2 linked regions of the Homo sapiens genome follow. The protein of the gene in region 1 purifies or fractionates together with the protein of each later gene. This does not show direct contact. Each region holds a gene or a part of one and is shown on either strand. Other genes may lie near its edges.

What was found.
Region 2: the proteins of TDG (region 1) and RAD23B purify together in Homo sapiens (affinity purification with western blotting; one study listed by BioGRID). This does not show direct contact.

The regions. Positions count from the first base shown.
Region 1 is NC_000012.12:103,982,872-103,986,122, reverse strand, and holds part of TDG (G/T mismatch-specific thymine DNA glycosylase), read right to left. Parts: coding exon 3,189-3,251; intron 2,988-3,188; coding exon 2,905-2,987; intron 2,829-2,904; coding exon 2,734-2,828; intron 1,375-2,733; coding exon 1,203-1,374; intron 521-1,202; coding exon 395-520; intron 1-394. UniProt on the Homo sapiens protein: DNA glycosylase that plays a key role in active DNA demethylation: specifically recognizes and binds 5-formylcytosine (5fC) and 5-carboxylcytosine (5caC) in the context of CpG sites and mediates their excision through base-excision repair (BER) to install an unmethylated cytosine.
Region 2 is NC_000009.12:107,323,738-107,328,278, forward strand, and holds part of RAD23B (UV excision repair protein RAD23 homolog B), read left to right. Parts: intron 1-152; coding exon 153-280; intron 281-1,096; coding exon 1,097-1,267; intron 1,268-4,541. UniProt on the Homo sapiens protein: Multiubiquitin chain receptor involved in modulation of proteasomal degradation. Binds to polyubiquitin chains.

The DNA.
Region 1 (3,251 bases):
GGTGAAACCCTGTCTCTATTAAAAATACAAAAAAAATTAGCCAGGCATCGTGGCGGATGCCTGTAGTCCCAGCTACTCGGGAGGCTGAGGCAGGAGAATGGTGTGAACCCAGGAGGGGGAGCTTGCAGTGAGCCAAGATCGAGCCACTGCACTCTAGCCTGGGTGACACAGCGAGAATCTGTCTCAAAAACAAACAAACAAAAAAGAAAATGTACTGTAAAAGTCTGTGTAATTCAACGTGAAATAACCATCAATTTTTCACTATTAGTCACTAAATAAAATTTCATATTATCATTCCCATTCTTCAATAATTTACTCTCCTTCTATTAAAATTTTCCCCCCAATCCTGACCAAACCGTCTTTGAAAGGAATACACATGTGGAGGGAACCATACTTAGCCCATTTGAAGAGAAGCCACAAGGTTCACTGCTGCATGGATTTTCTCCGTAAGCACCACCATATGCTGCCTCATAACCTGGATCATATTTTTCTTCCTTAACAGCCATCTTCTTTGCATCCTCTGTGAGGAAGGTAAAAAGGATTTAAATCTGATTTTGTACAACAATTTTAAAAGTAGCTTTATTCAGAAATCATGAACAATTCTTTTTCTTGAATATTCATATACACTGAGATACATCTCTATTAATCTTTTAAACTTATAGCATGTACTAAATAAACACATAAGAACTGTAAAAACCGCTTACATTCAACTTTACGTAGGGTACAATATTTCTTACATCCCTCTGCTCTGGCACTCTGCAGGTGAATTATCTGCAGAAGTGCCAGAGTAGAGGGAAGACCTTGGTAAAAGGAGATTTTAACAGTGACTAATATTCATTATCAGAGCACTCTGGCTGCGAATATAATTGTTTTCTTTTTTCCTGCTTTTAAATCCATAAGATACTTTCTGTAATGTGTGTGTGTGTGTGTGTGTGTGTGTGTGTGTGTGTGTGTGTATGTGTCTATATATAGACACACACATATGTATACGCACACAAGTGTATACACACATATATGTATATAGACATACATACTTATGTGTATATATGTATATATACACATGTATATATACACGTGTGCATATATGTGCACACATATGTATATGTGTATATGTATATATGTATATGTGTATATATATGTAAGTATATATGTGTATATATACACACACAAAATGAATAAAAGGAATGAGGACAGTAACATACCTTGGGCAAGCTGTAGGTCAAATGTATATTGCACCTCTTGAACGTCCATATTTCGTTCAATGCCTTTCAACTGATCTCTTAAGTCCTTCAGTTTTATGTAGTAATGAACTTTGTCTTGGGCTCGAGGAAACTGAGCACATCTTGCACTGGATGATGGCATAACATAGCAGAGCTAGAATCACAACATTTTATAATTTCAGAAATCTTATAATTCTATTGAATTCACTCATTGAGATTAGAATATTTGTCTTTATTTGGGTTAATAACTTGATACTTAACTACATATAAATATATGTAAAAATCAATAAAAGTAGTTGCTTTTAAGGTTGAATTTGTAATACTGACTTATTACCAAGTCAGGAAGTGAAAAATAATGAGCCTCCGCCTAATGAGCTGCCTCCTGGGTTCAAGCGATTCTTCTGCCTCAGCCTCCTACGTAGCTGGGATTACAGCGCATGCCACCATGCCTGGCTAATTTTTGTATTTTTTAGTGGAGATGGGGTTTCACCATGTTGGCCAGGCTGGTCTCGAACTCCTAACCTCAGGTGATCCGCCTGCCTCGGCCTCCCAAAGTGCTGGGATTATAGGCATGAGCCACCACGCCCGGCCTCCAAATGGCATGTAACAGAGAATGACACAGTACTCTACAGGAATTTCTCTACAATTCACTACAGGTAGTGAATTTGTACCATTTTAACCAAGCAGACAAAGGTGGGCCTTTATTTAAGCAAAAACCAATGCTATAATAAAACTCATCAATTGCATATTTATAAGAAATTATGAACAAAAACAATTTTAAAGGAGAAATTTAAATATATTTAGGTGGCAGAAACATTTTTAGGTTTCCACAAAAACCTGGCAGCAAATTAGCTTCTCCATCAGTTAAGATGTTGTATATACAACATGTAAATCTGTGCACTGTGTTGTTCTTTAAAAGTTGTAAATAAAACCTAAAACTAAGAAGCAAAATTGGAACCAAATGCCTGCAGAAGCTCTGTAGAGAGGACAATTTGAAAAACACTGTTATTTCATGATGACTTTGTGTATAAGACAACAGTATTGAATGCCAGTTAGGTTGGCTGGAGGCTTGTCTGGGTTGTATTATTTATATGGCTCTAAAATGAAGTTGAGCTAAGATATATAAATGGGGCAACTGGTTTTCCTAATCAGGATCATGTCTGTGTTTCCATGTTTGTTTCACAACAGTACGAGGGCTAAACCATTTGAATTTGACAACTACATGCCATTAAATGTATTCTGAATGTAGTATATGAGCCAGTTCCTCTCAATATTTTCACTGAATAACAACATCAAGACATTTAGCTGACAAATGTTTTTCTTTCTAATAAACCCTAATAGTATTTGAATTAATTTACAACTATTAGTTAAAGCTGATGTATAGGTATTATTCAACAAAATACAGTGTAATTGTTTTGCATGGTATAAATCACAATGGATAGGACAAATAAGGAAATTATCTAGAAAAAAATTCACATTTAGCTGATTTACAAATTCAATTTTAGGGACTTACAGTTTCTGTGTCTGGAATCTTATGGGGCTGAAGCCCAAATTCCAAGTTCTTAACCTTTACTCCAAAAACTTCTTTACTAAAAATTTCATAAATACCTAAAATGAAATACAAACATATTTACATTGCCCATAATGTTAGCAAAGAAAAAAAAAATTTAAAAGTAAATCTTACATTTTCCATTAAACACTGCTATTCGTGGCTGATATTTCTGTAATTTCTGTACTAGAATACGTCCTCCTTCACGAAATTCTTTACTAAAATTGAATTAAAAAGTAGTCAAAAATATAAATATGACAATATTTATAATATGCTAAATTCAGACAGCTTTCAATGAAAGAGCATATTGTACATTTGTTGAGCTCAGCTTGAACTAGATACATATGATGTTCCTAGAATATTTGGGGCACCAGCATACTCAAGGTTCCAACCCATAAAAGCAAATGCTGTGTACTTACCTGGAGAGATCTTTGCTGCCGGGCGTGGTCCTTTCCACCATGTTGGTAAATCCAATACCATAC
Region 2 (4,541 bases), on another chromosome or scaffold:
GGAAGATTTCATCATTATTTACTTCATTTTATTACATCTGAGAACTCAAATCATTTTTTCTTTGATAGTGTTTGCTGTCTAAATGTATTATTTAACCACTGTTTGTGTATGTATTTACTGCTTTTGTTTAGAAATGTTTATGTGTATTTTAGGACATCCCCTTGAATTTTTACGGAATCAGCCTCAGTTTCAACAGATGAGACAAATTATTCAGCAGAATCCTTCCTTGCTTCCAGCGTTACTACAGCAGATAGGTCGAGAGAATCCTCAATTACTTCAGGTGACTAATCAGTGTCAGTTTCACAAGTGATTTAGAGTGTGTCACAATTTGAAAAAGTCCATGAACGGTCCTTCCCCTCCTCAAATACAACTCTGTATTTGAGAATGTGAATGTTTTCTTCCAAGCTACACTTAGATATTGTAATCTAGATAGGTGTACTAAAAAAACAGTTGGGATATGGAGGTTGGGTTAAATTAAGTTGACCAAATAGTAGTAAGTTTGGGAAACATTTTATATTTCCTTTTTGGAGATTCCCACTACACATTAATATGTTAAAGAATTTGGGAAGCTGTTTAACAGAGAAACTGCCTAACTTTAAATCACTTTTCACAAGCTTATTACTCAGTTCCTTTTTCTTAGGAACTTTTAAGCAACAGGAACAACTTACTCTTAGAAAAAATAGCTGTGGGGCTTCTTTAGTGATCAGATCACCAAGTATTTGAATTTTATACAGCATTTTAATGCCCACTAGTGTGGAAGGTAAAAAATACATGCAAGTATTAAGAATAAGTTCTATTCTTATAGTCCCACAGTAGTTTTTTTTGTTTGTTTTTTGTTTGTTTTGTTTTTTTAAGCACAGGAGGCTCAGAGCACTTAAGAATTTGAATTTCTTCACTGTTTACTTTGCCCAAAAGTACTGAATTTCTTTACTATTGTATAAGAAATCACATCCTTCCAAAGACTGAATAATCCAGAATCACTAAATTACGTTTGCAAAAGTGTAGCCTTTTCTCTTAGTAATATTTAGAATTTCTCTGTTCCTGCAGATACTTAATATCAGTGTATTATTTTTCTCTGTCCTTCATATCACCACAGCAAATTAGCCAACACCAGGAGCATTTTATTCAGATGTTAAATGAACCAGTTCAAGAAGCTGGTGGTCAAGGAGGAGGAGGTGGAGGTGGCAGTGGAGGAATTGCAGAAGCTGGAAGTGGTCATATGAACTACATTCAAGTAACACCTCAGGAAAAAGAAGCTATAGAAAGGGTGAGTTTAAGTAAAACTTTAAAAAAATTAGTTCTTGGCTGGGCTCATGCCTGTAATTCCAGCACTTTGGGAGGCCAAGGCAGGTGGATCACCTGAGGTCAGGAGTTCAAGACCAGCCTGGCCAACGTGGTGAAACCCCATCTCTACTAAAAATACAAAAATTAGCTGGCGTGGTGGCACATACCTGTAATCTCAGCTACTTGGGAGGCTGAGGCAGGAGAATTGCTTGGACCTGGGAGGTGGAGGTTGCTGTGAGCCGAGATTGTGCCACTGCACTCCAGCCTGGGCAACAGAGTGAGACTCTGTCTCAAAAAAAAAAAAAAAAAAAAAAAAAAAATTCCTTAGTCACACTAGCCCCATTTCAAATGCTCAGAAGTCACATATTAATAATAAGGTTTTTCTATAATTTCTTTCAATAGTGTCCTGTAGTTTTCAGTGTAGAAGTTGTGTAATACTTTTGTTAAAATTATTTCGAAGTATTTTTATTCTTTTTGATGCTGTTATAAATGGATTTTTCTCTTAATTTCATTTTCAGACTGTTCATTGCTAACTATATAAAAATACAATTTAATTGTGTATATTGATCTTTTATCATAAAACCTTCTTGAACTGTTATTTATTCATTAAGTAGTTTGTGCATGTGTTCATTAGGATTTTCCATATACAAGGTCATGTCATCTGCACATGGAGACAGTTTTACTTCTTTTCCAATATGGATACCTTTTATTTCTTTGTCTTATTTAACTGCCCTATCTGGAGCCTCCAGTATATTATTAGACTAGCAAGAACCAACAACATCCTTGTCTGGTTCTTGATCTTAAGGGAAAGCATTCAGTCTTTCATCACTAAGTATGATATTATCTATGGGTTTTTTGTGGATGCCCTTTATCAGATTGAAGAAATTCTCTTCTGTTACTAGTTTGTTCATCACGAAAAGGTGTTGGATTTTGTCAAATTTTTTTTCTTTCTTTATTAAGATGATCATGTGATTTTTGTCCTTTAGTATGCTTTATTACATTGATTGATTTTGTATGTTGAACCAACCTTGCATTTCTGAGATAAATTTTACTGGTTACAGCATATGATCTTTTTTATATGTTGCTGGATTTAGCCTGCTTGTATTTTGTTGAGGATTTTTGCATCTGTTCATAAGTCATATTGGTCTGTAGTTTTTTTGTGATGTTTTTGTCTGAATTTGGTGTCTGGGTAATACTGGCCTCTTAGGGTGAGTTGGGAATTATTCTCTCCTGTTGTCTGGAAGTATTTATTAAGAATTGGTGTGGGCTAACACGGTGAAACCCCGTCTCTACTAAAAATACAAAAAAAATTAGCCAGGCGTGATGGTGGGCGCCTGTAGTCCCAGCTACTCGGGAGACTGAGGCAGGAGAATGGCGTGAACCCGGGAGGCGGAGCTTGCAGTGAGCCGAGATTGCGCCACTGCACTCCCGCCTGGGCCACAGAGCGAGACTCTGTCTCAAAAAAAAAAAAAAAAAAGAATTGGTGTGAATTTTTTGAATAGTTGATAGAATTCACCAGTAGTCTGGTCCTGGGCTTTTTTTGGGGGGAAGTTTTGTGATTATTGATTCAGTCTCTTGTTACTTGTCTATTCAACTTTTGTATTTCTTTTTTTTTTTTTTTTTTTTTTTTGAGACAGAGTCTCGCTCTGTTGCCCAGGCTGGATTGCAGTGGCGTGATCTCCGCTCATTGCAAGCTCCACCTCCTGGGTTCACACCATTCTCCTGCCTCAGCCTCCCGAGTAGCTGGGACCACAGGCACCCGCCACCATGCCCGGCTAATTTTGTTTTGTATTTTTTTAGTAGAGACGGGGTTTCAACATGTTAGCCAGGGATGGTCTCGATCTCATGACTTCGTGATCCACCCGCCTCGGCCTCCTAAAGTGCTGGGATTACAGGCGTGAGCCACTGCACCCGGCCAACTTTTCTATTTCTTTTAGAGTCAGTTTTGGTGGTTTTTGACTTGGAATTTGTCTATTTTATCTAAGCTGTCTAATTTGTTGGCGTGCAATTGTACATATTTCCTTATAATCATTTTATTTCCTCTTTTGATAAAGTAATAATGTTCCTGCATTTATTCCTGATTTCAGTCATTTGAGTCCTAAGATATTTTTGTTTTTTCCCTTCAGTTTAGCTAAAGGTTTTAATTTTGTTCATTTTGTGGTGGTTGTTGTTAATGACAAAAATAACTTTGGGTTTTGTTGATTCTCCCTATTGTTTTTCTAGTCTTTTGTTTTGTTTTGTTTTAAGTCTCTCTAATGTTTATTTCCCTCTTGCTTGCTTCTAGTTTGTTCTTCCTTTTTTAGGTTAGGTTTAGTTTAGTTCTTTGTTTAGTTTTAGTTTAAGATTAAATTATTATCTATCTTTGTTAGCATAGATGTTTATAGCTATAATATTCCTTCTGCGTTTATGCTATAGTAGCATCCCATAAGTTTTAGTATGTTGTATTTTTGCTTTCTTTCATCTCAAAATGTTTTTTAATTTCCCATTTGGTTTCTAATTTAATTCATTCGTTATTTAGGATTGTGTTAATTTCCACAAGTTTATGAATTTCCCACATTTTCTCCTTTCGATTTCTAAATTCATTCCATTATAATCAGAGAATATACTTTCAATACTTTTCAACTTATTGAGGTTCGTTTTGTGGCCTAACATGGTATTTCTGAAGAATGTTCTATGTATACTGAAGAAGAATATAGTGTAGTTCTTATTAAGTGGTCTATAAATATCTGATAGATCTAGTTTGTAGTCAAGTCTTCTTCCTTAGCTGTTTTATCTATTATTGAAGGTGGAGCTGTAGTTGTCTCTATTATTGTTAATTGCCAATTTCTACCTTTAATTCTCAGTTTTTATTTTATGTATTTTGTGGCTCTGTTATATATAATTGTTGTGTCTTCCTGAACCCTTTTTATCATAAAATGCCTTTTGTCTATAGTAACAATTTTTATCTTAAATCTGTTTCCTCTGATATAGCCATTCTAGCTCTTTTTTGGTTACCATTTGCATAGTATATACCTTTTTCTATCATTTTACTTTCAACCTACTTGTGTCTTTGAATCTAAATTGTGTGTTTTGTAGAAGCAGGCAGTTGGATTGTACCCTTTACTTCACCTATCCTAGCTTTAATCTGGATAAAACCCAGATAACAAACTGATTTTTTAGTTTCTTCTGCTTTCATAGATGAATAGTTATTCGTGATGAATTGGGATTTTTGCCCAAATTTTAAGGGTTATTTCCAAATATAATCTGACACAGCAGTC